Homo sapiens: one gene and its partners. The protein of the gene in region 2 purifies or fractionates together with the protein of the main gene of each other region. This does not show direct contact. Each region holds a gene or a part of one and is shown on either strand. Other genes may lie near its edges.

Region 1 (7,535 bases), on a different chromosome or scaffold from region 2:
AAAGTTACCCCTGGTATGCTGGTAATGCTAATTTTCTTTTCTTTTGGGATGGAGTCTCACTCTGTCGCCCAGGCTGGAGTGCAGTGGTGCGATCTCGGCTCACTACAAACTCTGCCTCAGGTTCAAGCGATTCACCTGCCTCAGCCTCCCGAGTAGCTGGGACTACAGGCATGTGCCACCACACCTGGCTAATTTTTTTTTTTTTTTTGTATTTTTAGTAGAGACAGGGTTTCGTCATGTTGGCCAGGCTGGTCTTGAACTCCTGACCTCAGGTGATCTGCCTGTCTTGGCCTCCCAAAGTGCTGGGATTACAGGTGTGAGCCACTACGCCCAGCCCAGTCAGCAGATTTAGTTATTTTTATTTTTATTTATTTATTTATTTATTTATTTGAGACGGAGTCTTACTCTGTCACCCAGGCTGGAGTGCAGTGGCGCTATCTCGGCTCACTGCAAGCTCTGCCCCCCGGGGTTCACGCCATTCTCCTGTCTCAGCCTCCCGAGTAGCTGGGACTACAGGCACCTGCCACCACGCCCGGCTAATTTTTTTTTTTTTTTTTTTGTATTTTTAGTAGAGACAGGGTTTCACTGTGTTAGCCAGGATGGTCTCAATCTCCTGATCTCGTGATCCGCCTGCCTCGGCCTCCCAAAGTGCTGGGACTACAGGCATGAGCCACCGCACCCAGCTATTTTTTTATTCTTTTTGAGATGGAGTCTCGCTCTGTCGCCCAGGCTGGAGTGCAATGGCGCGATCTAGACTCACCGCAACCTCTGCCTCCCAGGTTCAAGCGATTCTCCTGTCTCAGCCTCCTGAGTAGCTGGGATTACAGGCACCCACCACCACACCATGCCCAGCTAATTTTTGTATTTTTAGTAGAGATGGGGTTCCACCATGTTGGCCAGGCTGGTCTTGAACTCCTGACCTCAGGTGATCCACCTGCCTCAGCCTCCCAAAGTGCTGGGATTACAGGCGTGAGCCACCTACCCAGCCCCAGTCAGCAGATTTTGAATCTCACTTGAAGAATGGGCACGAGTCTGTGTGGGGCAGCATCTGTGTTGTCTGCACACACATGTGCTTCCATGTCTGTGGGCAGCCCTGGCCGCTCCTGCATGTGCTTGCCCCTACCTGGGCTCCACACTGAGAATGCGGAACGCTGGGCTAGTCTCTGATAGTCGCTCCCGTTTCACCGGACATTCCTTCTCCTGGGGGCAGAGGTCAGAGGTTAGGGAATACTAGGCCCAAGGGACCTCCAGGTGACCACCACCTGCCCTCCCACCTGCATGAGGTCAGCCCTGCCCTCACCCAGCAACGCATGATGTCCCAGAGGGCAGAGGCAGGGGCATCCGTCTTCACAGCGTTCTTACAGGCGTGGGAGAGTGAGACCCGGAAGTCAGCGTGGAGGAGGGCCGACCTGGGGAACAGCAGGGATTATGAGGGAGATGCCGGACTCCTTGACCCCAAAGCCCAAGCTGACCAGCGTAGGTAAGACTACCTTCGGCAAGGGCTCATGGCTACAGAGTTCATTTCTTTTCTTTTCTTTTTTTTTTTTTTTTTTTTTTTGAGATGGAGTCTCGCTCTGTCGCTCAGGCTGGAGTGCAATGGCGCAATCTTGGCTCACCACAGCCTCCGCCTCCTGGGTTTAAGCGATTCTCCTGCCTCAGCCTCCCGAATAGCTGGGACTATAGGCATGTGCCACCACGCCCAGCTAATTTTTGTATTTTTAGTAGAGACAGGGTTTCACCATGTTGGCCAGGATGGTCTCGATCTCTTAACCTTGTGATCCGCCCGCCTCAGCCTCCCAAAGTGCTGGGATTACAGGAGTGAGCCACCGTGCCTGGCCTTCTTATTTATTATTTTTTTGAGGTGGAGTCTCACTCTGTCGCTCAGGCTGGTGTGCAATGATGCAATCTTGGCTCACTGCAGCCTCTGCCTCTCAGGTTCAACCAATTCTCCTGTCTCAGCCTCCTGAGTAGCTGAGATTACAGGGATGTGCCATGACGCCTGGCTAATATTTTGGTATTTTTAGTAGAGATGGGGTTTCGCCACGTTGACCGGGCTGGTCTCGAACTCCTGGCCTCAAGTGATTCGCCCGCCTCAGCCTCCCAAAGTGCTGGGATTACAGGCATGAGCCACCACACCTGGCCTTTTTCTTTTTCTAATTATTATTATTATATTTTAAATGGAGTCTCGCTCTGTTGCCCAGGTTGATGTGCAGTGGCGCAATCTTGGCTCACCACCGCCTCCTCCTCCTCCCAGGTTCCAGTGATTCTCGTGCCTCAGCCTCCCAAGTAGCTGGGACTACAGGCATGTGCCACCACACCCAGCTAATTTTTGTATTTTTAGTAGAGACAGGGTTTAACCATTTTGACCACGCTGGTCTTGAACTCCTGACCTCAAGTGATCTGCCCACCTCAGCCTCCCAAAGTGCTGGGAATATAGGCATGAGCCAATAAGCCTGGCCTAATTTTTTTTTTTTTTTTTTTTTTTTAAAGAGACAGGGTCTCATTTTGTCACCCAGGCTGGAGTGGCATGATCATAGCTCACTTTAGCATCAAACTCCTGGCCCAAATGATCCTCCCACCTCAGCCTCCTGAGTAGTTAGGACTATAGGCATGTATCACCATGCCAGGCTAATGGGTGTGTGTGTGTGTGTGTGTGTGTATACATACGTATGTATGTGTGTGTATATGTATGTGTGTGTACATATATATTTATTTATTTATTTGTTAGAGATAGGGTCTTACTACGTTGCCCAGGTTGGCCTCAAGTGATCTTCCTGCCTCAGCCTCCCAAGGTACTGGGATTACAGGAATGAGACAGTGCACCGGGTTCTCCCCACCCCCTCGCAAGTTCTATGCATGAGAATCCCTGGACTTGCCCCAGGCCACCCTGTGGTCTGGGACAGGCTCCTCCCGACCCCAGGGGCTCTTACCGCAACTGCAGGAGGCTTGGTGTGTTGCAGTGGATGGTGCTGCTCAGCTGGTCCAGGGTGTAGTACAGAGGCACGTCCGGGAGCTCCTGCGATGGGGGACAGGATGGGCATGAGTGGAGATGGACGGGCACAGGTGGAGCCCCCTTCCCCGTCACAGCCCGGCTCTCACCTCAGTGATGACGCTCAGGACCCCTCGGATCCGCTCCGAGGTGTGGAAGCGGCCGGGGTTAGCGCTCACAGCCTCCAGGACACGGCCCACAAAATCCAGGTCATGGATGGGCTCTGCCCACATGGGGCCACCAAGCTGGGGGCGCACCGGGGACAGGTGAGCAGGGACTATGACCTTCAAGACCCTCTTGCTCCTTTGCCTCCCCTGGCCTAGCCCTACCTGGTGTCGTTGCCCACAGTGTTCACACTCGGGGGTCACAGGGGGACCACAGGCTGCAGAGAACTTGGCCCTAAACAGAGAGGGGTGGTTGGTGGGGAGGGAGGAAAACCCTGGGACTCCCCTTCTTCTCCTTCCTCCCTGCTCACCGGCCGCTGGGGACTCCTGACGCTTTGCCGAGACGCTGAAGGTGGAAGGCCCCGCAGCCCACACACTGGAACACCAGCGCCTGCTTGCTGTGGGGGGTACCAGTGGCCACGAGTTCCCAGCGTGACCACGACACCCCAACTCCTCCCTTAGACTGGCTCTGTCCCTTAAGAAGCCCCAGATCCCCCAGGGCAAGGTCCTGTCTCCTCTCTCAATCCACCACCGCTCTCTGCCCCCGGGCTGACCTGGCTGAGGCCTTGACCTTGGCCTGGCCGGTGAAGACACGGACAAAAACACGCACGTAGAAGTCAGCGCTGATGCTGAGCAGCGGCACCACGAAGCGCTGGTAGCAGTTGGCGCGGAGGTCCAGGCTGTGCAGGACGATTCTCAGGGCCTGGGGGTGGGGGGTGGGTGTCAGCCTCCCCTCCACTATCCACCCACCCCACCAGGAGCCCTATGTGGTACTCACAAGTACAGGCTCAGGGCCAGCTCCCTGGGATCCAAGCCCACCCCTGAAAGTCCTGGCTGTGGGACCCTCAACAAGTGAGTATCCCCTCTCTGTGCCTCAGTTTCTTCATCTGCAAAATCACAACAGTCCCTGTCTGTGGCACTGCTGGGGGCACTAAACGAGTGAGGAAAGCATAGATCCAACCTATTCTGACCAGCATTATCGGTGTGCCATGTGGCATGTACTGAGGACCCACGTTCCAGCCCCCAAGGGCTCTGTGGGCAGGAAGTGGGGATACTAGGTGCTGTAGAACTGCTGGGGCCTGGGCCGGGCGTGGTGGCTCATGCCTGTAATCCCAGCACTTTGGGAGGCTGGTCAGGAGTTTGAGACCAGCCTGGCTAACATGATGAAATCCCCGTCTCTACTAAAAATACAAAAAATTAGCTGGGTGTGGTGGCGGGCGCCTGTAATCCCAGCTACTAGGGAGGCCGAGGCAGGAGAATCACTTGAACCTGGGAGGCGAAGGTTGCAGTTAGCTGAGATCTCACCACTGCACTCCAGCCTGGGCAACAAGAGTGAAACTCCATCTCAAAAAAGAAAAAAAAGCAAAACGGCTAGGGCTTTCCTGCTAGTGTGAGACTCTGATATGGGAAAGGAGACAGCATTTCCCGGGCTGACTTCATGACAGGACCCTTTAGGAACAAGGGCAAGAGCCCTCTGTGGACCACGCTGGAGTGCAGTGGCACTATCAAAGCTCACAATAACTTTGAACTCCTAGGCTCAAGTGATCCTCCTGCCTCAGCCTCCAGAGTAGCTGGGACCACAGGCATCCACCACCACACCTAGGTAATTTTTAGGGTTTTTTTGTAGAGATGGGGTCCTCGCTATGTTGCCCAGGTTCCTGACCTCAAGTGATCCTCCCACCTTGGCCTCCGAAAGTGCTAGGATTACAGGCATGAGCCGCTGCACTTCGCCACTCAGCCTTCTTGAATCCTGATCAGACACTCAATAGGGTCAGACCATTTTTTTTTTTTTTTTTTGAGACAGAGTTTTGCTCTTGTTGCCCAGGCTGGAGTGCAATGGTGCCATCTCGGCTCACCGCAACCTCCACCTCCCGGGTTCAAGTGATTCTCCTGCCTCAGCCTCCCGAATAGCTGGGATTACAAGCACCCACCACCACGCCCAGCTAATTTTTTTTTTTTTTTTTTTGTATTTTTAGTAGAGACGGGGTTTCACCATGTTGGCCAGGGTGCTCTTGAACACCTGACCTCTTGAACACCGCCCACCTCGGCCTCCCAGAGTGCTGGGATTACAGGCGTGAGCCACCGCGCCCGGCCTATTTTTTTTTCTTTTTTTTGAGACAGAGTCTTGCTCTGTCGCCCAGGCTGGAGTGCAGTGGCACAGTCTCAGCTCACTGCAAGCTCCACCTCCTGGGTTCACGCCATTCTCCTGCCTCCGCCTCCCGAACAGCTGGGACTACAGGTGCCCGCTACCATGCCTGGCTAAGTTTTTGTATGTTTAGTGGAGATCAGATTTCACCATGTTAGCCAGGATGGTCTCAATCTCCTGACCTCATGATCCGCCCACCTCGACTTCCCAAAGTGCTGGGATTACAGGCGTGAGCTACCACGCCCGGCCTATTTTTTTTCTTTTTGAGATGGGGTCTCCCTCCCAGGCTGGCGTGCAGCGGAGTGATCTTGGCTCACTGCAACCTCGCCTCCTGGGTTCAAGTGATTCTCCTGCCTCAGCCTCCTGAGTAGCCGGGATTACAGGTATCTGCCACCATGCCTGGCTAATTTTTGTATTTTTAGTAGAGATGGGGTTTTACCATGTTGGCCAGCTGGTCTCAAAGTCCTGACCTCAGGTGATCCACCTGCCTAGGCCTCCCAAAGTGCTGGGATTACAGGTGTGAGCCACTGCGCCCGGCCTTCAGACCATCATTGTGCCCATTTTACAGATGCAAAAAAACCCGAGGACCAGAAAGGTGAAGTCACTTGCCCAGAGCTACCAGCAAAGCTAGGATTTAAACCCAGTCCTGGAAAAACGACCTTTAAAAAAAAAATTTTTTTTTGAAAAGTTGTTTTAATACAGAAAACTAAAATAATGTGGCCATGCACTCCTGTCCTGGCCAAAGCCACTGTCCCCAAATGACCATGATTATCAGCCATGCTCTTAGGAACTATGTGGGTTGAAGACACGCCTGTCGTTAACAGCCTGGGATGCATCTGGCCATCAGCCTGGAGGAAGCTGAGCAGGTCTGAGGAGGGGGAAAGTGTATTGGGAAGGGACTCAGACAACCACCTGTCCCCCGGTCTCCCTGGCTGGCTGGCAGAGGGCCCCTCACCATCTCGTGGCAGGCCCGGCTCTTGAGGGCCATGGCCCCGTACTTGCTGTAGCACGTCTCCCCGCTGTTCCCCGCCAACACCGCCATGTCTGTGCAGGTCACACACAGCAACCCTGCAGAGAGGGGCTGGGCAGTGAGAACCCTCCAACACCCCAAGCCCTGCTCCCACCCCAGTGCCATCCCCACCTCACCTCCTTCACTCACAGCCTGCACAGCTGCATCCAGGAAGGTGGCTGGGCTGCCATAGGGGTCCAGATCGATGACGTCAAACCTCTCCGACACCCTCTGGTGCTGGTACATCAGCATCCTGGGTGCAAAGAGGGCCAGGTCCTCAGCCTCCCACGCCAGGTACCTTCTCTGTCCCCTACACATATTAACTCGTACAGCACAGTGGTTTGGGTCTGAACTCCGGGGCCAGATTCCCAAGTTCAAGTCCTGGCTCAGTCATTTATTTATTTATTTATTTTATTTTTGAGTCGGAGTCTTGCTCTGTCAGCCAGCTGGAGTGCAGTGTTGTGATCTCGGCTCCCTGCAACCTCCGCTTCCCCAGTTCAAGCAATTCTCGCGCCTCAGCCTCCCGAGTAGAGTAGCTGGGACTACAGACATGTGCCACCACGCCCAGCTAATTTTTGTATTTTTAGTAGAGATGGGGTTTCAACATGTTGGCCAGGCTGGTCTCAAACTCCTGACCTCAAGTGATCCATCCACCTCGGCCTCCCAAAGTGCTGAGATTACAAGTGTGAGCCACTGCACTGGCCTTGGTCATTTATTAAACTGCACAATTTTCCTACTTAGGAAAAGCACCATGTGGAACTCAGTCCACACATCTAAAACAACAACAATACTGATATAAGACGTATCTGCCTGACACCATTTCAAGCAGTTTATAGATGTATTAACACATTTTTTTTTTCCTTTCTTTGGAGACAGAGTCTCGCTGTGTCACCCAGGCTGGAGTGCAGTGGTGGGTTCTCGGCGCACTGCAACTTCCACCTCCTGGGTTCAAGCGATTCTCCTGCCTCAGCTTCCCAAGTAGCTGGGATTACAGGCACGTGCCACCATGCCTGGCTAATTTTTATATTTTTAGTAGAGACGAGGTTTTACCATGTTGGCCAGGCTGGTCTCGAGCTCCTGACCTCAAGTGATCCGCCCACCTCGGCCTTCCAAAGTGCTGGGATTACAGGGGTGAGCCACTGCGTCTGACCTCATTTTAAAATTTTTGTAGAGACGGGTTTCACTGTGTTGCCTAGGCTGGTCTTGAAATCCTGGCCTCAAGCGATC
Region 2 (7,772 bases):
GTGTTCCATCCCTGACTTTTTACCAACTGTGTGACCTTGAGCAAGTCAGTGAATGTGGCTGGGTCTTGGGATCATTATCTGTAAAGTGAGATGGTTGTACTAAATGATCTCTAAGGTTTATTTTAGTTTTAACATTGTAGATCTATGCTGTCCAATATGGTAGCAACCAGCTACATGTGGCTATTGAGCCCTTGAATATGGCTAGTCCGAACTGACATGTGCTGTAAGTGTAAAATACACACTGGATTTCAAAACAAAAATGTAAAATATCTCAATAATTTTTTTATATTGGCAACATGTTGAAATAATATTTTGGACATGTTGGGTTAAGTAAAATATATTATTAATATTAATTTCTTTTTAAAAATGTTTTTACTTATTTATTTGGGTAGAGATGAGGTCTCCTTATGTTGCCCTGGCTGGTCTCAAATGCCTAGCCTCAAGCCATCCTTCCACTTTGGCCTCCCAAAGTGCCAGGATTACAGGCGTGAGCCACCACACCCAGCCACTTAATTTTAATTTCATGTGTTTCTTTTTACCTTTATAATAGGACCACTAGGAAACATAAAATTATACATGTGCCGCTATGGACTGAATTGGGACCCCCTCAAATTCCTATGTTGAAGCCCTAACTCCCTATGATGTATTTGGAGATGGGGCCTGTGGGAGATCATTTGGTTTAGATGAGGTTATGAGGTGAGGCACCATGATGGGATTAGAGTTGTTATTGGAAGAGACATCAGCGTGTTCTTTCTCTCTCTCTCTCTCTCTCTCTCTCTCTCTCCTCTCTCTCTCTCTGCCATGTGAGGACACAGTGAGAAGGCAGCCATCTATAAGCCAGAAAGAGGGCCCTCACCAGAAACCGACTATGCTGGTACCCTGATCTTGGACTTCTAGTCTCCAGAACTATGAGAAAATAAATTTCTGTTTAAAGCCACTAAGTCTATGGTATACTGTTCTGGCAGCCCAAACTGACCAAGACATGCGGTTTGTATTATATATTTCTGTTGGACAGCATTGGTCCAGATATCTGGGAACTCCTACATACCAGCCAGCCTTCTGGCACTTGTAACTTTCTGTATTGTGTCTGTGAGAGCACAGGCATGGTCTCCAGGCCAGTGTTTCCTCCCTAGCAGCTGCTCAATAAGCTTCTGGCAATTAAGTCATTTTCTTGGTTGTAAGAATATAAACAGTCTCTGGATAATGTATGTAAAAGAGGACCTCATTAAGAGAATATTGGGTAACAACTGGAATCTGCAGGGCAGAAGAACCAGGCTTGGAGGATATACTCAGGCAGACAGCAATGTCCCAAATCCCACTGCAGACTAGTCTGGGGGTGACTCCACTGCTGCCCCAGAGAACCAGAGCTGGCTGTCCATTGGCAGAGTGGCGTGGGTATGTGCTTCCAGCCTCATTAGTTTCCAGTTCAGAGTTCAGTTGACTGAGTTTGAATCGGGGACTCTAGCTGCAAGAGAGGCTGGGGCTGGGAAGGTGAGCAATTGCTTTTGAGCTTTTTTTTAGTGGAGAGTTGGGTCTTATCATAAGCAGAAGATTTATTCCTTTAACATTGGAAGGGTCTTTAGATGCTGGGCTGCCACATAAGGATGGAACCCTTTCCTTGTGTTGTCTGAGACCTTGAAATTTTGACTGCAACACAGCAGAAGTTCCATCAAGACTCCTCAGCTGGAACTCCTCCAGGCGAGAGGCTCTTCAGATCTCCTTGTTCTTGGGAAGGATGAAGCAGAACAGTTGACATCATACATTCTAATGCTACAATTATAATTTCATGATGTCCTTTGAAAATTCTCGCATGTTATTTTAATGTGGAGACACAGGAGGGCACTCTAACCAACTAGCAATAAAACCTAAATGGTTTCATAGCCTTGGCAGTTAAAAAATAGATGTTGATTTGTTGAACCTGTAAAACACAGGTTTTTCATTTACTTATTTATTTATTTGCAAAGGAGTTTCACTCTTGTTGCCCAGGCTGGAGTGCAATGGTGCGATCTTGGCTCACCACAACCTCCGCCTCCCAGGCTCACGCGATTCTCCTGCCTCAGCCTCCCGAGTAGCTGGGATCATAGGGATGCGCCACCACGCCCAGCTAATTTTTTGTGTATTTTTAGTAGAGATGGAGTTTCTCCATGTTGGTCAGGCTGGTCTCGAACTTCTGACCTCAGGTGATCCGCCCGCCTCGGCCTCCCAAAGTGTTGGGATTACAGGTGTGAGCCACTGCGCCCGGCCGGGTTTTTCTTTTTTTCTAGGCAGGATAACTAACTTTGCAGGACTACCTTCCAACAATACCCTGCAAAATACCCTAGCTTCCGTGGGGGTATCTCACCTATAACAAAGGCTCTCAAGACACACTCTCCACATTATCCAGTTAATGTTCTAGGGACCATGGCTATGAGCAACTCAGAACAGGGAAGGAGTTTTTTTCTTCTGATGTCCAGGCTGGAGTGTAGTGGTGTGATCATGGTACATTGCAGCCCTGAACTCCTGGGCTCAAGGACTCCTTCCGCCTCAGCCTCCCAAGTATTAATAGCTTGCACTACAGGTGTACCACCTTGCCTGGCTAATTTAAAAATTTTTTTTGGTAGAGATGAGTGTCTATGTTGCCAGGGTTAGGGAAGAGGACTTTTGACTACAGCTTACCCCCTGCCTCAGCCACTAGACCAGGTTGCCAAGAGCTCACATTTAAAGGTCAATTGGCCAAATTGAACCTAGAGCAGAGAAGAGAGACCTGGTTGTCTTGAGACTTTCTTCAAATCTGCAGCCTGTCCCCATGACTCAGTTTTCCCATCTGTAAAATGGAGATAACATTAGACCTATGTCTGTATAGTTTCCTCATGAAGAGAGAGACAGAGTGGGAACAACATATCCGGGGGTGATATTTACCATCGCACACAGACCATTGAGTTCTATACTAAAAAACTAAAGCCCGCCTGAGTCTTGTTAATGAATGATAGCACACGGGAGGGACAAAGCGTGCTCTGCTGGCAGCTGGAGTAACAAAAGTAATGAGGCGAGGTCGGAACAGGATCTGCTGGCTCCGGCTCGGTTTCCTCGCACAGGTCTCTCCAGCTGGATCCTCGACGCTAGGGAGGAAGGGGCGCGGGACTGCTGTGGGGGTTTTCCCTCCCCAGGCAGGGGCAGGACCTGTTCCGGGCGACTGCAGGGTTAAGGGTATCGTCTTAAAGAGCCGGATCCTCCCGGCTGGAGCGAGGCTGGATGGCGGGACGCAGCCTCTCAGCCTCTCGTACCCGCCCTGCGTCCGCAGTGGTTGTTGGCGCAGCCGCCCCGTCGGTGTTCCGGGCTCAGTCCCCGCTCCCCAGCGCCAGACGCAGACTCCGGGCCAAGTTCTCCCTCCGCTCGCTGCTTTCTGCCGCAGGACCCGGATCAATAAAGGGAAGGAGAGCCGGGAGGAAATGATGGAGAACAGAGAGAAAGGAGATGCTTGATTTCACTCGCCAAGGAGTGAGTGCTCATCGGCAGACACTGGGCTCTGGCCACGCGTCTTAGACTCCAAATCTCGGCTCACTGGTCCCTTTGAGGAGGTCGCCTGGTGTTCCCGTAGCCCTCCACCCCACCGTAGGAGAGCGCCTGCCACGAGCTCCGCGCCTCGCTAAGTGCTTTGCTACGTGAACTCTTAGTTTTCCCAACATCCCTAAGCCGCCGATACATTATCACCCACGTATTGCGGACGAGAGAACCGCCTCGGAGAAGCTGGCTGGCTCGCTTGGAGTTTTGCAGCTAGTGGCGGAGCGAGCATTCCGAGCAGGTACTGTGCGATCCTCCAGCGCCGGCCGCAGCTCACAGCCCCTTAGCTCCGCCGGGTTATTGTGCGGCCGCGCCTTCTGCACCTGTTGCGGCCCTCGCTAGGCGGGAAGGGAGGGAGAAGAGGAGGACAAAGGGGATGACCAGGTGGCTCTCCCCCGACGGACTCCCGGCCCAGGGAGCGGATAGACCACTCCCAGAGAGAGTGTGGCTTTGAGCCTTGGAGAGGATGCTCTCCTTCTCCAGGGATCGCCTCCCCAGCGGACGCAGAGTTTCAGGGAAATGTCCGCCTCCGCCACTTGGGATGGCAGTGGGGAGAGGAGGATCTGGGTGTCCGGAGGAGGGCAGTGGGAGAAAGCTGGAGCTGCTGGAGTCGCAGCTGCCTGCGGAGCGGGCCCGGGAGGAAGCGGGGCCGAGCGTGCGGCGTCCACGCGGTGAGTGTGCAGCGCTTTCATTCAAACTTTCTCCAGTCTCGGTTCCGGCGTCAGCAAGGTGTGACCAATCAGAGCCCAGAGACGGGAATAAATTATGCAAATCACCATCTGGCGATGGGTCAGATGACTCCCATACTTTTAAAAACTACCTCTATAGGAGCGTGACAGCAGCGAGTCCTTGCCTCCCGGCGGCTCAGGACGAGGGCAGATCTCGTTCTGGGGCAAGCCGTTGACACTCGCTCCCTGCCACCGCCCGGGCTCCGTGCCGCCAAGTTTTCATTTTCCACCTTCTCTGCCTCCAGTCCCCCAGCCCCTGGCCGAGAGAAGGGTCTTACCGGCCGGGATTGCTGGAAACACCAAGAGGTGGTTTTTGTTTTTTAAAACTTCTGTTTCTTGGGAGGGGGTGTGGCGGGGCAGGATGAGCAACTCCGTTCCTCTGCTCTGTTTCTGGAGCCTCTGCTATTGCTTTGCTGCGGGGAGCCCCGTACCTTTTGGTCCAGAGGGACGGCTGGAAGGTAACGTGAATTTGTTTTTATTCCCCCCAGCCACTTCTCTGTGCTGGGTCCCCTCTGTCTTGCTGATTCTTCAAACCCTCCTTGTTCCTATGAAATTCTTCCTTTCCCACTGCGCTGCCCATTCTCTCCTCCAATCCACCTTGGAGTCCACCTGTCTCTCTGCTGGTCTGATGGGGGCATTCCCGGCAAGTCATGCAAAAGGCAAAGGCTGGCAGGGTGCGCTGGCTCTTGCCAGCCCTCCCACCCCCACCTCCTTCCCTTATACGGCTCCCTAAGCCAGTGCTGGTGCTGTCCAGCCAGCCGAGCGGCCTGGCAGCAGCTCTGAAACCTTGTCCTCATGCCTGAACCTGGAGGTTTGAGAGGCAAGAAGGCTGTCAGAGCTGTGTCTCCTGGAGCTGCCTTTTAATCTTGGTGTAGGTGTCTTGAAAGTTCAGGTGGCAGGGTAGCTGGCTTTGGTTTGATTCGTGCTTGCAGGGAGCGTCTGGTGGGTCGCTTGTGCTTAGAAGCTGCCGGGCCTATTCCCCCAGGTTGCCAGCCTTTTCCTCTTCAACACTCTTGTGCTCCCCCGACTCTTCCTCTTCCCACTCCTCCTCCCTTTCCTCCTCCTGGCTTTTAGCTTCTCTTCCTCTTGGGTTCTGTATGGCAGCCTTTGCCAGTGGAGGCAGCTTGCCCTGGGGGAGCCAGAGTCAGTCAGCTCTGGGGGAGTCAGAATCAGAGTGAGAACTAAGTCAGCTGATAAGCAGTGGAGGGCTGGGGAGCCTCTAAACTGAACCCCATCATCTCATCTTCTAGTCTGCTGAGGTTGTGCCAAATGGTCTGTGTGGGCTTGTGTATGTGTGGGAGGGTTACTGTGAATGAATGGAAAGCCTTGCTTTACTCAACATGTTTCCAACTCTGGTGCTAACTAGAAGCATTGCCTAGGGCAGGTCTCATCTCTGGCTCCTCACCTGTAAAATGCTAAAGTTCCTTCTAACTTCTGTGTTCTGGGCCTCTGAGTATGTGTGAGTCATTTCCTTCATTGCAAAAAGTATTTACTGCATACCTACTTAGTGTCAGACACTATTCTGGGAGCAGGGGAGAGAGCAGTGGACAAAATAGATGGCAATCTGTGCCCTTGTGACACTTACATTTCAGTGGTGGGAAGACAGACAGTGCACTGATTAAAGTATCAGTGGTGCTCAGTATTATGGAGAAAAATCAAGCAGAGGAGGAAGGTGGGGCATGTTGGTGGGGGAAGGTGGTGCGATTTTATGATGTGGTCAGGGAAGGCCTTTCTGGAGAAGTTGACCATTGAGCAAAGAGCTGAAGGGGGTGAGAGAAGGAGCCATGAGGACATCTGGGTGAGGAACAATCAGAAAGTCCCAGAGGCTGAAGTGACCCAGGCCAAAAGTAGTAGGAATGTACCTAGAGAACTTTGGGGTCAGAGCAGGTCAGACTCTAAGAGGAAGAGTCTTTGTCCATATGTGGGTTTATCCGCAGATCTGTCTCAGGAATCCAGGAGACTTCTTTTCTCCTAGGTTTCCCCATCTGGCCTCTGCATGAGTGGCTATCTGGGTAGAAGGTGGGGAGTTGTCGAACTCATTATGTCCGTGGTTCAAATTTCTGCTGGTTGGGGCTTTTGTTCATTACTTTCATGACGGTTAACCTGACTTCCGCTCATGTGCATTCAGCAGCATTTTCTGGAACCTTATCCCTCTTACATCTGCTGCATTCTTCCCCCTCTCTCCCTCCTTTCCCCTCCGCCCTCTCCACCACTATATCTCTTTCCTTTTGGTATCTTCTTCCTTTTGCTTCTTAACTCTGAGATAAATTAACTCCAAGATGGTCATTTGGCATCTTTCCCTGCTGGGTGATAGGAGAGTTTGATACTCTCACTTTCTAGCCAGTTATCCAGTGATGCATCCCAGGATGGCTGAAAGAGTGCTGGGTGGGGTCCATTTATGACTTTCTGAAACGGTGTCATGATGACAGCACCTACTTAGTGTTAAGCCACAGTGGCCATCAGTGACATGAGCTGCACTTTGGGAGCAGGGCCGTCTCCTAGGTGGCACTGTGCATGAGCAGTGAAGCTGGAAGGGGGGATTTTTGTTGCTTTTAGGAGTTTCTCCATGGCTTTAGTCATTTACTTAACAAACCAGATGAATGCCTGGCACATGCCATCACTAGAAAGGGCACTGAGGATGCCTGAGTTTCCCTAGATGGGAACACTAGGGGAAGCCTATTTTCCAGCAGGTCAACAGCCTCTTGCCTCCAATTCCAAAATCCACAAACTCTCAAAATTGGAAAATGTGTTTGGTAACTTGTTTGGCAGCAAGACCTGGCCTTACCTGATCTGAACTTATTTGGCAGCAAAAACCTGGCCTGAGATAACAGGAGGCTATTGGTTATCTTTATATTTGCCCTCAAATGTGAGTGGTTATGTATTCTCTGCAGAAATATTAGGATGTTTGATCCAGGGGGAATAGCCCAGGCCCCACTGGCAGCATTATATAATATATGGTGTATGCTCCATGATGCCTTTCTAAAATCTGAAAACTTCTAAATTCTGAAACTCACCTGGTCCCAAGCATTTCAGAAAAAGAACTGAGAACCTGTACTCTAAAAGTAGGAAGGAAGTAGAACTCCTTTTGATAGGAAAGAAGAGGGAAATGCAAGAGAGAGATCTATTTATTTCAGAGTGACAGTAATTAATACTAGTGACTAATTAATACTCTTTAAGTATAAATGAGATGTCCTTTTTTATAAAATGTTCACAGTTTTTCTGGGAGGTGAAAAGGGAACATTCAGCAGATGTAAAAACCGAAACCCAGATGGCTTAAGCAAATTGCTCACGATTGAACTAGAATCAGACCCCAGGTCTCTCACTCCGCAAGTCTGCTAGATGCACCCACGCTCTGTTCTGTCTCCCCAGATAAGCTCCACAAACCCAAAGCTACACAGACTGAGGTCAAACCATCTGTGAGGTTTAACCTCCGCACCTCCAAGGACCCAGAGCATGAAGGATGCTACCTCTCCGTCGGCCACAGCCAGCCCTTAGAAGACTGCA
Region 3 (7,535 bases), on a different chromosome or scaffold from region 2:
TACTGATGAAACATCATTTAATCCTATTCAAAGTGAAGATTTTGACAACGTGTGGTTGATATGAAACCTTTAATTTCTCTGAGAAGTCCCGCTGCTTGCTTTAGTAATACCCTTAATGCCTCAGGACATAACATACTCAAAAAAAAACTGTGCATAAAGAAGTTCTAAATGAATCTTGGTATCCTTTCTAGATTAAATGAGCAACATGCACATCACAAGGTCTTCCTTAAGTGTGCCTGAGATGTGAAATAGCATGCAGACTATTCCCACTGATATTTAATAATACATTAACATGCAAAAATGGGTATCATTGTGTACCCTTTTGTACAATGTTTCAGGATTCAGTTATTTCCTCTGAATTACTAGAAAATTACAATGTTTTGGGTTCTCCCATTATTTATTGTCCTAGTGGTATGAGAAATGCTTATAGTAACCTTGCAGAAATACTTCAATTAAGGCTTAGTCTCCCACAGAACAATATATATCACATAGGGAGAATATAACTTTGTAAAATATTTAGAAAGTTTAATCTTTTATCCTACACATTCCAGATGTACATTAGCAGGAAGTATAAGTTTTAAAACAAAACTACTTTGTTCAAGATGAAAGAGATGGATATTTTCCCATGTTAATCAACTCTTATTTCAAGAACTCATTTTAATGTTAATATGCTCCATAGTTGAGGGTTAGCCATAAAATACATTTAGACTTTTATAAAAATTGCACATAAATTTCATAGAGGAATTATTTCATATGGTCAGTAACAGAAGAAAATATGAATTGACTGCAAGAGCACTAGATTTGGAGCTAGACTGAAGTCCCATGAGGTCAGGAGTTCGAGATCAGCCTGGACAACATGGAGAAACCATGTCTCTACTAGAAATACAAAAATTAGCTGGGCATGGTGGCACATGCCTGTAACCCCAGCTACTGGGGAGGATGAAGCAGGAGAATCACTTGAACCCGGGAGGCGAAAGGTTGCAGTGAGCCAAGATTGTGCCCCTCACTCCAGCCTGAGCAACGGAGCAAGACTCTGTCTCAAAAAAATTAACCCTGACATTTTTTCAAATGTTGAAATTATAAGACACAGTTATGAGTTTAATTTCTGGCAGTTTCAAATCAGGCAACCTCCAGCAGGCAAGTCATTCTCTAAGTCTTGGCCACTTATCAGTGAAAGGAAGTAAAATCAGAAAGCTTTTTTAAACATCAATAAATGCCTTTCCTCTATCTTGTAGTTGACTAGTTACTTTCACATCCACTATCTTGTTTAATTATCAAACCTACAGCTGAAGAGAAGGCCTTCCTTCTCATGGGGTCAGAAACAGAATCACAGACTTTGACTTCTCATCCATGGTTCTGATCATAGGCCAACTGGTTTCAGGTATCTAAACTTTAAATTGCCCTAAGACTCATTTTAATTGACCACTAAACATTCAGAGATTTTCAGATTTCCTTTTTCCACTGATAATAATCTTGAATTTTTTTTTTTTTTTGAGACGGAGTCTTGCTCTGCTGCCCAGGCTGGAGATGCAGTGCCGTGATCTCAGCTCACTGCAAGCTCTGCCTCCCGGGTTCACGCCATTCTCCTGCCTCAGTCTCCTGAGTAGCTGGGACTACAGGCACCCACCACCACGCCTGGCTAATTATTTGTATTTTTTAGTAGAGACGGGGTTTCACCATGTTAGCCAGGATGGTCTCAATATCCTGACCTCGTGATCCGCCTGCCTCGGCCTCCCAAAGTGCTGGGATTACAGGCGTGAGCCACTGCACCTGGCCAATAATCTTGAATTTAATTTGGCTATTTGAGGATAAGAAAGGGATCAAGCAAATTGCTATTATTGTTGTTTTTCCAAAATCAACTCACTTCCATGACAACTTCTGATGAAAAACATTGGGTTTTGGTGAGCTGTGTTTCACAGATGGCACCTCACTGACCTGATTAACACTTAAAATTCCAATAACTAGGTCACTCTTAGAAACATTTCCTTGACCAAAAGGATGTCCCAATGATCTTAAACCTGGGGAGAGGGGAAGGAAAAGGGAGACCGCCAGGAAAGAATTCAGAGTGCTCTCCAGGAAGAGACAGCAGGAGTCTTTGAGAGGTTTTGGTTTATTTACAAAGATTATAAATACTAACTTGATATCAACCTAGAGATTCTACTTGTCTAAACCTTTCCCCCTCTTTTATTCATTCCAAGCAGCCCTTGGTCCAAGGTGTAATTAACAAGACCGATCCTTCCACACACATTTACCAGTGTCTTAAATTCAAATCCAAATTCTATTTTGGCAGTACTGCTAAAATCTCTTATTTCTTAGTTCTCAAAAAAATTGAAGGAGCTTTTGTCATTTTTTTAATATAAACATCTTCTTTCTTGAAACTGGATCTATAAACAATTTAATGTATTGTGTTCCTCAATAATAGAGTAAATCTGATTTCTGCTAATATTTTGGGTCAGTGACACCCCAAAACCTTTTGCTTTTTATCATGAAGAAGCCCCTCAGACACCTTCTACCTTACTAATGTCTCCATCCAATTTACTATCAAGAAAAGACAGTTTCTCCTTTTTTTTTGTGGTCAGCTTGGATCTTTTGAAGGAGGCATGTCTGTGTGCAGTGAGTTATCACCCAGATGTTCTTGTAGGTATTTTTTTTTTTTTTTGAGGCAGGGTTTCACTTTGTCACCCAGGCTAAAGTGCAGTGGCACAATCTCAGGTCACTGCAGCCTCAATCTCCTGGGCTCAAAATGATCCTCCCACCTCAGCCTAAGTAACTGGGACTACAGGCACGCGCCACCATGCCCAGATAATTTTTTTGTAGAGACGATGTTTTGCCATGTTGCCCAGGCTGGTGTTGAACTCTTGAGCTCAAGCGATCCACCTGCCTCAGCCTCCCAAAGTGCTGGGATTATAGGCGTGAGCCACCATGCCCAGCCAGTCTCGTAGTTTTATAGCTGTGAATTGCTCACAAAAGTCAATCATAAAATTTAGTTTATCGTAAAGTCTGAAGTCCCTTCACCACTGGACTTTATGAACAAAGCTATGTCTAACTCTGCTAGGAAATATTTTCTGATGAAACAAGTGTTTTAAGTAAGAAAAAACTCTCCCAATCATCTAACTCCTCACCCTTTCTGTGCCCACAATATTACTATAATAAAAAGCAACGTGCCTTTACAGAAGCCATGCTACATATGTCTCACCAAAAACGGCACATAGGCACTTTCAGACACAGTGCTAAAAAGAAATCAGATGATCAAAGTTGAACAGCCTCACATCTCATGTGACCTTACATGTCAGCAAAGTTTCCAGCAATCAAAATTGTATAACCATTTTATAACCAATAAACCCGTATGCAGCACAAATGTCTCTTTCTCCCCGACGTTCATCATCAGCCAGAGTAAAATGTTAATTCGGAACTGGATGAAGTGACAAGCTTTTGAATGTTGAGAGAATGAGGGCCAGAGGTGGCCTCAGCCTCAACACTTTGGGAGGCTGAGGCGGGCGAGTCACTTGAGGTCAGGAGTTGGCGACCAGCCTGGCCAACATGGTGAAACCCCGACTCTACTAAAAATACAAAAATTAGCCCGGTGAAGCCAGAAGCTGCGGCCCTGCCTTTCATATCCTGGGAACACAGAACCACTCAGGGGAAGGTAAAGCAGAACCAGGAAATGGAAAGAGAGCTCAGGCAGCAAGGGAGGGAAGCACGCTCTCAGCTGAGTTCCATTTTGAGACTCCCAGGAGAGTAAGTTCTCTATGTAATTAGGTTCATCAAGAGGAGGGAGAGGAGCACATTTTCTCACAGGTCAAAGCTGGGGCCTATGGGGTGGGGGGGGCCTTTAAATTATTTGTCTTTGACCTGGGGCCTTTCCTGAGGTATCCACACCCACCTCCAATTAGTCCACAGGGACTTCACAACTCCCCAATCTTAAAAATTGGGGGAGAATGTGTTCACACCTGGATTCTTCCTGGGGGTTTATGGCCATAGTTCAAAGGCCTAAGATTAGAGTCATGATCCATAGATATTCCAGGAGCTTCCAGCAGTGGATCCTGACACCCCAGGGAAAGAAATCCTTATACCTGGTCACTCCAGAGTTCTTAGGCTCCTACACAAGGTGAGCTTCCCAGTTTCCCATTGCCAACTCCACAGACACGCCCTGGATGACCACCAACTCACTCCCCAATCACAGCTCCACCCCAAAAGAGGGTGGGAGCAGATCAGAAGTGGCTTTAATGGTGTACCCAGAGAAAAAGCTGCTGTCCCTTTCTCTAGGAATGCTTCAAGAGAAAAGGAGATAAAGACTAAGTGGAATGAAAAAAAAAAAAAACCGGAACGATTTACCACTGTTGTTTTGGTTTTTTTAAATGTGGCTCAAAGAATGTTGGTGGTTCCACCAGCTGAAACCTGTGGCTATTCTAAGCATCTGTTAGAGTTACCTCAGAAAGAGCTTTGCATTTTTGTTAAGATATTTGATTAAGTTATTTGAGCGCTCAGTGTATAAAGTCAGATAGGCCTGGGGTCAAATCTCAGCTCAGCCACTTGTAAACTATATGACCTCAGATAAATGCTTTTATCTATCTCTCTAAGCCTCAATTTTCTCATCTAGAAAATGAGGGTAGGTCAGGTGCAGTGGTTCATGCCTGTAATCTCAGGGCTTCGGGAAGCTGAGGTGGGAGGATTGCTTGAGGCTAAAAGTTTGAGATCAGCCTAGACAACATAGCAAGACCTTATCACTATAAAAAAATTTTTTTTAATAAGCCGGGCACGTTGGTCCACACCTGGGAGGCTGAGGCGGGAGGACTGCTTGAGCCCAGGAGTTCAAGGTTACAGTGAGTTATGACTGTGCCATTCCACTCCAGATTGGGTGACAGACTGAAACCCTGTTTTTAAAAAATAAAAATTAAAAATAAATGAGTAATTGTTGCACCTATCTCACAGGATGGTTTATAAAGATGAAATGATATATTACTTGTATTTAGTATAGTGCCTGGTTCATGGAAGATATTCTGTAATACTAGTTACTAATATTACTATTATTATTTTAAGAAAGATATTTGTCATTTTACAAAGGGCCATGGTAAATTCTAGGATTTAATATTTGGACATTTAAGTGTATGAGACATTAACTTCAACATACTACCTGATTTTGCATCTGCCTAATCAATTTTCACTAACGTCATCATGAAAAACATATATATATAAAAAATATAGGCCGGGCGCGGTGGCTCATGCTTGTAATCCCAGCACTTTGGGAGGCCAAGGCGGGCGGATCACGAGGTCAGGAGATCGAGACCATCCTGGCTAACACAGTGAAACCCCGTCTCTACTAAAAATAAAAAAAAAATTAGCCGGGCGTGGTGGCGGGTGCCTGTAGTCCCAGCTACTCGGGAGGCTGAGGCAGGAGAATGGCGTGAACCCGGGAGGCGGAGCTTGCAGTGAGCCGAGATTGCGCCACTGCACTCCCGCCTGGGCCACAGAGCGAGACTCCGTCTCAAAAAAAAAAAAAAAAAAAAAAAAATATATATATATATATATATATATATATATATATATATATGAAACCAGGCCAACCCTTCCCTTCCCCACTGCTAGCCATTTCTCAAGCTCATTTGTTCTGTCTCTCCTCTCAACTGCTCTCTCTCTCCTTGACATTTTTAATGGACCATCGTTGCCTGTGGAAATATGAAGATGGTGGTCAACCACAGTGTGCAAGTCAATGGCAAGGATGTGGCATCCAACAGCTCCCTCATCGCTGTGTGCAGCTCAATGGAAAGGCTGTGTTTTGATTTGCAAAATGGCTATGATTTGCAAAATGCAACATCTGTTCCAAGTAAACAAATATTCCAAACCACCTCTTGAACTGGAAGTTTGGATTCAGCAGCACTGCTTTCTGTCTTGTTTTTCCAGGTAGAATCTGATCACAATTGTCTCTCTCTCAGCCTTACCTCACCCCCATGTTCTTGGGTCATAAACACCACCCTTTGGTGCCACCCTCCTGGCCTACCCTCACTGCACCTGGCCTACCCTCTCCAAAGCCATTGCTCACCACCTCCTGGTAGTGTACAATATATCTAGGAAATAGACTCTCAGTCCCAAGGACTTTGGGCCAACCCATTTGTGTCTGCCTCTGACAAGCTAAGCTACCATGACCTTTCCAGACTTCAACTCCCCAGTGTGAAGATTCCTAGGACCCCAGCCTCACTCCCTCCTCACTGTGTACACTCAACCTTGAACTGGCCAGCAGCCTTGTGTTTCACCTCTTCCGATGACACACACATTCTCTCATCGACCACCAAATTTCCCCCTTAGATTGGTTTCTGAGGGCTTTCAGTCCACAGAACATCTTGAACTGGAGTGTCTTGCTACCAACTCAAATTAATCTTGGGAGGCTGAGCATGGTGGCTCAGGCCTGTAATCCTAACACATTGGGAGGCTGAGGCAGGCCAAAGAATTCAAGACCAGCCTGGGAAAAATAGTGAGACCCCATCTCTAAACACAAAAAAATACAAAATTAGCCACGCATGGTGGCACGTGCCTGTGGCCACAGCTACTTGGGAGGCTGAGGTGGGAAGGATCACTTGAGCCCGGGGAGGTCAAGGCTGCAGTGAGCAGTGATCGTGCCACTGCACTCCAGCCTGGGTGACAGAGTGGGACCCTGTCTCAAAAAATAAATAAATAAATAAAAATAATCGTGGGGCCAACAACCTCAAAAAGTAATAGTTAATGAAAAGAGCTTGGGTCTAGTAATGAGGAAATTTGAACAGAGCTTCTGGCTATCCCACTAACTAGCTTAGTTAAGAATATCTGGCCGGGCGCGGTGGCTCACGCCTGTAATCCCAGCACTTTGGGAGGCCGAGGCGGGTGGATCATGAGGTCAGGAGATCGAGACCATCCTGGCTAACAAGGTGAAACCCCGTCTCTACTAAAAATACAAAAAATTAGCCGGGCGCGGTGGCGGGCGCCTGTAGTCCCAGCTACTCGGGAGGCTGAGGCAGGAGAATGGCGTGAACCTGGGAAGCGGAGCTTGCAGTGAGCCGAGATTGCGCCACTGCACTCCAGCCTGGGCGACAGAGCGAGACTCCATCTCAAAAAAAAAAAAAAAAAAAAAAAAGAATATCTGAGTCCCTCCTCTATACAATTAGGGGATAGTCTGGATAAAGCGCTACCATATAGCTCTAAGATCCTAAATGCCCACCCTCCCCATGGCAAAATGCACTTTTTATTTATTTATTTATTTATTTATTTATTTATTTATTCATTCATTCATGTAATAACTATTGAGTGTCTGATACTGCAAAGCAATGTGCCAGGTATTGTGAAGGGTTAAAGGTCATCCTTCAGAGAGCTTATCATCTAGAACGGGAAATAAGACAATTACATCACTAACTAAGAAACAGAGACAATGTCACAATTCGAGGTACTTTTTTTTTTTTTCAGATGCAGTCTTGCACTGTCGCCCATGCTGGAGTGCAGTGGCACAATCTTGGCTCACTGCAAGCTCCGCCTCCCGGGTTCATGCGATTCTCCTGCCTCAGCCTCCC
Region 4 (7,535 bases), on a different chromosome or scaffold from region 2:
AGGAATAGATCTCCTGGATTGTCTTCTCTATGTATGCTTTTCTTCCTGCTGTCCTTGTATTGTGTGTCCTAATTTTATTCTCCACCCACACCCCTTCCCCATCAAATTTGTTTTATAGAATAAATGTGTTTTTATATATCTTTGTCCCTCTTGTATAATCTTTTGATAATTGTCTACTTTCATTTTTGTGACATGTTCCTCTATGCGGAATGATACTAGTGAGTTTTTGCCAATAAATCCAATGTATGTAACTTGGAGCATTAGCTAGATTAACTTTTTGGTATGGTAAGACATCCTATAGCAGCAACAGATTTTAGCCCACAGTGTGATTAGGCTATTTGAATGGATGAAATTTGCTGTATTTGGATTTAATCTTCTAATCCAGTTTTTGTCTTTGGGGATGGTTGGAACATAGTCATCATAATGAGAACTATCAATTGTCTTTCATAGATAGTGTCTCTATCTTCCCAGTTTCTGTAAGTTCTCTTCCTGAGTGTTATTTGCTGCCTATTCTTACTACTTTTCTTATTTTAGATCACAGATTCTGCTGGCCATATTCTCTACTCCAAAGAGGATGCAACCAAGGGGAAATTTGCCTTTACCACTGAAGATTATGACATGTTTGAAGTGTGTTTTGAGAGCAAGGGTGAGTAATCAAGAGTGTTTCTCTGGATTAAGAATCTTCTCCAACTCTAATGCTCCTTAATACAGTCAGCACTTAATATCTAGTTTCATTTGTATTCTTTATTTATTCTGATTTGGAGACCTGTTACCTTGTAGTCTTTGGAGCACCTTTTAAAAGGTCGACTACATGGAATAAAAGATTGAATAGGTGGAACAGAGAGAATTTTTAGGGCAGTAAAAATATTCTGTATGATACTGTAATAGTGGATACATGTCATTATATGGTTGTCCGAACATTACATTTGGAATGTACACCAAGAGTGAATCCTAATGTAAACTGTGGACTTTGGTAGATAGTGATGTGTCCATGTAGGTTCATCATTTGTAATGAATGTACCACTCTGGTGGGAAATGGTGATAATGGGGGAGGCTATGCATATGTAAGAGGAAGGGGGATATGGGAAATCTTTGTGCCTTCCTCTCAGTTTTGTTGTGAACCTAAAACTGCTCTAACAAAGTGAAGTCTTAAAAAAAAGGCTGGGCATGGTGGCTCATGCCTGTAATCCCAGCACTTTGGGAGGCCAAGGCAGGCAGATCACTGAAGGTTAGGAGTTTGAGACCAGCCTGGCCAACATGGTGAAACCCTGTCTCTACTAAAAATACAAAATTAGCTGGGCATGGTGGCTCGTGCCTGTAACCCTAGCTGCTCAGGAGGCTGAGGCAGGAGAATCACTTAAACCCAGGAGGTGGAGGTTGCAGTGAGCAAGATTGTGTCACTGCACTCCAGCCTGGGTGACAGAGTGAGACTCCATCTCAAAAAAATAAACAACAACAACAACAAAAAAAACTGGCCGGGCGCAGTGACTCACGCTTGTAATCCCAGCAGTTGGGAGGCCGAGGCGGGCGGATCACCTGAGGCCAGGAGTTTGAGACCAGCCTGGCCAACATGGCGAAACCCCATCTCTACTAAAAATACAAAAATTAGCCAGATGTGGTGGTGGCACATGCCTGTAATCCCAGCTACTCGGGAGGCTGAGGCAGGAGAATTGTTTGAACCCAGGAGGCAGAGATTGCAGTGAGCCAAGATCGTACCACTGCACTGCAGCCTGGGTGACAGAGCGAGACTCTGTCTCAAAACAAACAAAAAGGATTGTCTGTTTGCCAGGCAAATGCAGAGAGAAAAATTATGAAGGGTCCTTTTACAAAGGAGACTCTTTAGGGCTATGATGTCAGCTAAGAGGATAGGCTGACAGTTCTATGCAAGAGACTGTATAGTCTGGACTCGACCATTCTGAGAAATGGTGGTTAGGTGATTTCGTTGTGCAAATATTAAGTGTACTTACACAAACCTAGATGTTATAGCCTACTACCCACCTCGGCTATATGGTATAGCCTACTACTGCTCCTAGGCTACAAAGCTGTAAAGCATGTGACTGTACTGAATACTGTAGGCAGTTAGAACACAATGCTATTTGTGTATCTAAACATAGAAAAGATATAGTAAAAATACAGTATTATAATAATCTTATGGGACCACCTTCATATATGCAGTCTGTCCTCGACTGAACTGTCTTCATGTAGTGCATGACTGTACTGTGCTGTGACAATCAGGGAGGTAGTTGGAAGACCTTGTAAGAAAGAAGATATCCTGATCATTTGGACCAGGTGGGGCTGTGAACTGCTTAAGTTTCACAACTTTTTCAATGAGGAAGTACATCTTCCATGGACAATGTCGTAATCAGGATTACACATTGGATTTGGGAGAACAGAACACTCTGGGTGCCACATTTTGTTTTGTTTTGTTTGAAGACTTGTTGTTTTCATGCTCAGAAGACACATGTGACTTGTCTTACTTTGTTCTCAGTCTTACCCTGTGCAGTCTTATTTATATTTCTCTTGCTTTCGAGTTAATCTTTCCAGTCTATCCAAAAGAAGTCCTTTTTTTGTGTGTGTGTGAAACAAGAGTCTTGCTCTGTCACCCAGGCTGGAGTGCAGTGGTGCGATCTTGGCTCACTGCAACTTTACCGGGTTCAAGTGATTCTCATGCCTCAGCCTCCGGAGTAGCTGGAACTACAGGCACGCACCACTGCGCCTGGCTAATTTGTGTATTTTTAGTAGAGACGGGTTTCATCATGTTGGCCAAGCTGGTCTCGAACTCGAACCTCAAGAGATCCACCTGCCTTGGCCTCCCAAAGTGCTGGGATTACAGGCATGAGCCACCGTGCCCATCCCAAAAGAAGTTCTTTACTGTCTTTCAAGCATGCCATACTCCGATTTTAATATCTGAGCCTTTGCTCATGCTTTGCCGTCTGCCTAGAGTACTTTGCCTAAGTCCTGCCTTTAGGTGTTCCCTTTTTAGTGAAGTCTGTCCACAACTACAATCTTCTCTCCTCTTCCCTTTGCTCCATATTGGAATTGTCTGAACCAGTTCCTTTGGCTTAAACTTTTACAGTGCTTTGCATTTTCACCATAGTTGTTTTGTGTATATGTCTTAGATCCCAATTGAATTATTTGAAGGCAGGGATTGTATCCTGGCTTAGTCCATTTTGTGCTGCTATAACAGAACATCGCAGAGTGGGTATAAACAGTAGAAATTTGTTTGGTTCATGGTTCTGGAGTCTGGAAAGTCCAAGATCAAGGGGCCACATCTGGTGAGGGCCTTTTTGCTGTGTCACAATAACATGGCAGAAGGTATCACATGGCAAGAGAATGCACAGGAGAGCAAGAAGGGGCTGAACTCACTTTTATAACAAACCTACTTCTATGATAATGACATTAAATCTATTGATGAGGGCAGAGCCCCATGACCTAGTCAATTCTTAAAGGTCCTACTTCTCCGCCAGGCACAGTGGCTCATGCCTATAATCCCAGCACTTTGGGAGGCTGAGGCAGGAGGATCGCTTGAGCCCAGGAGTTCCAGATCAGCCTGGACAGTATAGCGAGACCCTGTCTCTACAAAAAATACAAAAATTACCTGGGTGTGGTGGCTCACGCCTGTAGTCCCAGCTACTTGAAAGACTGAAGTGGGAGGATTGCTTGAGCCCAGGAGTTCGAGGCTACAGTGAGCCATGATGGTGCGTGCCACTGCACTCCAGCTTGGAAGACAAGAGTAAGAACCTGTCTCAAAAAATTTTTTTTAATTAAATAAATAAAATTAAAGGTTTTACCTCTCAACACTGTTGCATTGGGGATTAAGTTTCCAACACATGAACTTTGAGAGGGGCACATCGAAGCCGTAGCATATCTCTTTAAAATCTCCAGCACAGTTTTAGTACTTAGTGAGTTTTCAATGAGTAGTTATTGAATTGACTTCAGTTCATTTCAGAAAACTTCCAGTGTCTCTCAGGCATCAGAGGGTACAGTACCATTCAGTGTGGCTTATGGTTTCAGGAACCCCAGTGCTTCAGTGGCACTGTTTCCCACAACTTCTAATTTCATGCAGGCAGTTGTAAATTTTATAACTAGGTGAATTCCAGGGGATTGGGGCTGAACAGTTTTCTGGGGCTCCTTGGGTCTTTTCCTTTCTCCTACTTGATGATTTAAGATTAGAATGCTTCTTTGATCCAGCTGAATCAGATTGACTCTTCTAACATGAACTCTATTATAAGAAGCATCCCTGAGATTTGAACACTTAAAGTTGTTTTTTTTTTTTCCTTGAGCTGTTGTAACTCTTTTAAGGGCTTAGTGGGAATAGCTCTATGACATTGTACTCCTACTGAACTAGGCCATACATTGATCAAAATGTTTGAATTAAAGTGGAATATTAGATAAAACTTATGTTCTTTTCAGTACTCAGATTTATATTAAGTAAATCCAAGCTTAGCACATATCCAATAATCCTAATTCATCATGGCCTTCCCTCAAAATTTGACAGGGCAACCTTTTCAGATGTGGAAATACACATTTTCAGCCGAAGTTGTTGCCTACTATCTCTTGATTTATATGCCACTCAATTTCACACTGTTTTGATTTTTGAGTTTTATTTCCCAATTCAATAAGCCTGTGTGGTTTCCCTTCTGTTCTGTTCCTCTGTAGTACCAGTTGCAGTATCTTGTGTCCTTGCCTGCTCAGAGATGTTTGCCAGCAGCATGTTCTTGTTGCTTTCCGGCACCCCACACAGATAGAGGCTTTGTCTGGAATGTTTGTGATTTTAGCCAGAGCCAGGAATTTTCTGCAACTGAGCAGGGGGAGGAGTTGTGGCTGTTTCCCTCTATTGAGAGGGTAGGGGTTCTGTAGAGGGAGGGCGGGCGGGTGGGTGGGTAATTTCCCAGAATTTTAAGTATTTCACACAATGATTCCTTTGATTTCTTTCTCAGGAACAGGGCGGATACCTGACCAACTCGTGATCCTAGACATGAAGCATGGAGTGGAGGCGAAAAATTACGAAGAGGTATGTCCTGCTCTAACAGCCAGAGGAGGCAGCAGTGTGCTATGCTGTGAGGTTTCTGTGACCTCGGCAGGCCAACAGGCTGTGCTTTGCCCAAAGGGCTGTGGTTTCTTAGCAGTCTTGTGACAGCCAGCCATGATCTTACTGATACAAAAAGTGGTATTAACAGCCTTAGCCGGGCGCGGTGGCTCACTCCTGTAATCCCAGCACTTTGGGAGGCCAAGGCGGGTGGATCGCCTGAGGTCAGGAGTTCGATACCAGCCTGGTCAACATGGTGACACCAAGTTTCTACTAAAAATACAAAAATTAGCCAGGAGTGGTGGCGTGCGCCTGTAATCCCAGCTAGTCTACTCGGGAGGCTGAGGCAGGAGAATTGCTGGAACCTGGGGGGCAGAGGCTGCAGTGAGCCGAGATCGTGCCACTGCACTCCAGCCTGGGCGACAGGGCAAGGCTCCATCTCAAAAAAAAAAAAAAAAAAAAACAGCCTTGAAGAATAATTCTGGCTGTGCTGTCAGCCAAAGACTGAACAAACTGTCCCACAGAATGTTGGTTTGATAAAACACTGAAGCATATGGCATTAGTTCTCTTGAACTGTGTGTGTGTAGAGAGAGATATTTTAAATTTTTTAAAGCTGGAATTCAGTTATTTGTTAATGCCCAAGGTTAAGAAAAGTGATTTGTTTTTAATTCCTAAGACTTTTTCCCCAAGACCAACAGTTGTATATCTATCTATCTATCTATCTATCTATCTATCTATCTGGGGCATGGATTCAGTGCTGTTTAGTCTTGAACAACTGTTTTGTGTTTGGGAAATAACAATAGTCAAAGATAGTTTTTAGTTAAAATAATTTCAAACTTTCAAGGAAGAGGGCAGGATGGAGGAAAAAGCTGCAAGAGACTAGGAATGGTGATAATAGAAATTTGATGCTGATAAGAAGTTATTTATTATAGACTAATAAAAACTGACACTTATTTGGGTGACAGGGAGATGGAGGTGTACACAGAATGAGGAGAAGGACAACAGCCTTTTTCATCTCTGCGAGACTTGGGGGCAGCACAAAAGGGTTCTTCAAATGAAGGGCACCTTTGAAAAACCACAAGAACTATTTAAGACTAGATAATTGATCTTTACAGAAAGATAAGAGTATTTTTACCCAACAAAACAGTACGTAAGGGCATGAAGGAGGAGTGGGGTACAGGAAATAGAATGGGCTTTTGAAGAATGCAAACTAAGTAAATGAAGGAAAATTGGTTTAAGTGATTTAGGAAAATTGTCTAGGAATAGTGGAACAGAAGTTGCTCTCTCTTTGGACAGCACTTTGGAAGGGAAATATCCTAAAATGGAAGAAGATTGGAAATGACTGGTTAATTCTGCAACAGGAAGTAGTACAACAGTTGCAGCTCTTTCCTTGTTCAAATCCTCAATTGAATGAAACTAGGTAGCGTTATTTAGAGGCAGTAAATAGGAGCAAGTGATACAGTTGTGAATGGGAGACAGTTTCCGGTAGAGAATTTTCAATTGTTTGTTTCTGTTTCCAGGCTAGTTTAATTTAAATAAATAAAACAAGAAGACCTCTTTATTTGATGAACTTGAGTAAATTGAAAAATTTTTTTAAACCTTCATGATTCAGAAGAATCTTAATTATATTTAAATAAGATTATGTTAAAGTGCTTTTATAAGATATAAAACACTAGGGAGAATGTTCTCATTATTATAAGGTAGAAGAATAGGTAAAATGATTTCCAGTTTGTGGTTACTGCTTCTGTTCCCGAACTGTGGACCATTCTCAGTTGAATTTGTACTCTGTGGAATTTTACCTATTGTAATCTTTTTCTCCAACATGATGCCTGTCATTAAGGGTATTTATTTATTTATTTATTGAGATGGAGTCTCGCTTGGTTGCCCAGGCTGGAGTGCAGTGGCGGGATCTCTGCTCACTGCAAGCTCCGCCTCCCGGGTTCACGCCATTCTCCTGCCTCAGCCTCCCGAGTAGCTGGGACTACAGGCACCCATCACCACGCCCAGCTAATTTTTTGTATTTTTAGTAGAGACGGGGTTTCACCATGTTAGCCAGGATGGTCTCGATCTCCTGACCTCGTGATCTGCCTGTCTTGGCCTCCCAAAGTGCTGGCGGATTACATGCGTGAGGCACCGCGCCCAGCCCAAGGGTATTTATTAAATAACAACACATCAATGCCCTATTAGACAGTAGACATAGCTAGTTCCCCTCAAAAACAGATGACATTATTGTGGGTTTATATAAAGAATGCTTTGGACACAGCTGTCGTATAGCATTTTAGAACCCCTATACCTCCTGGAATTTCCATCATCCTTGGACTTTATAGACATTAGGAAAGGGGCTTTATCTTTCCTGACCTTTTGCTTAACCCAAGAGGGGAATCCCTAGCCCAAAGAAAACCACGGTGCTTCCTTTGCCTGCTTCCTGCTTCAGACGTCTGACATGTCCTAAGCCTGCCTTTACGCATGTAGTTACAACACAGCTCCAAGGTTCTGCTTCTTAACC

Evidence for each region.
Region 1: the proteins of LIPG (region 2) and TRMT1 purify together in Homo sapiens (affinity purification with mass spectrometry; 2 studies listed by BioGRID and IntAct, with this or other methods). This does not show direct contact.
Region 3: the proteins of LIPG (region 2) and PLS1 purify together in Homo sapiens (affinity purification with mass spectrometry; 2 studies listed by BioGRID and IntAct, with this or other methods). This does not show direct contact.
Region 4: the proteins of LIPG (region 2) and TMED10 purify together in Homo sapiens (affinity purification with mass spectrometry; 2 studies listed by BioGRID and IntAct, with this or other methods). This does not show direct contact.

What each region holds. Positions count from the first base shown.
Region 1 is NC_000019.10:13,106,451-13,113,985, forward strand, and holds part of TRMT1 (tRNA (guanine(26)-N(2))-dimethyltransferase), read right to left. Parts: intron 6,562-7,535; coding exon 6,446-6,561; intron 6,368-6,445; coding exon 6,255-6,367; intron 3,857-6,254; coding exon 3,708-3,856; intron 3,552-3,707; coding exon 3,465-3,551; intron 3,389-3,464; coding exon 3,319-3,388; intron 3,235-3,318; coding exon 3,100-3,234; intron 3,017-3,099; coding exon 2,931-3,016; intron 1,410-2,930; coding exon 1,301-1,409; intron 1,201-1,300; coding exon 1,124-1,200; intron 1-1,123. UniProt on the Homo sapiens protein: Dimethylates a single guanine residue at position 26 of most nuclear- and mitochondrial-encoded tRNAs using S-adenosyl-L-methionine as donor of the methyl groups. tRNA guanine(26)-dimethylation is required for redox homeostasis and ensure proper cellular proliferation and oxidative stress survival.
Region 2 is NC_000018.10:49,557,680-49,565,451, forward strand, and holds the start of LIPG (endothelial lipase isoform 1 precursor), read left to right. Parts: upstream 1-4,377; 5' UTR 4,378-4,629; coding exon 4,630-4,726; intron 4,727-7,637; coding exon 7,638-7,772. UniProt on the Homo sapiens protein: Exerts both phospholipase and triglyceride lipase activities. More active as a phospholipase than a triglyceride lipase.
Region 3 is NC_000003.12:142,598,894-142,606,428, reverse strand, and holds part of PLS1 (plastin-1), read right to left. Parts: intron 5,902-7,535; exon of another isoform or gene 5,683-5,901; intron 1-5,682. UniProt on the Homo sapiens protein: Actin-bundling protein. In the inner ear, it is required for stereocilia formation. Mediates liquid packing of actin filaments that is necessary for stereocilia to grow to their proper dimensions.
Region 4 is NC_000014.9:75,145,143-75,152,677, reverse strand, and holds part of TMED10 (transmembrane emp24 domain-containing protein 10 precursor), read left to right. Parts: intron 1-534; coding exon 535-646; intron 647-4,940; coding exon 4,941-5,014; intron 5,015-7,535. UniProt on the Homo sapiens protein: Cargo receptor involved in protein vesicular trafficking and quality control in the endoplasmic reticulum (ER) and Golgi.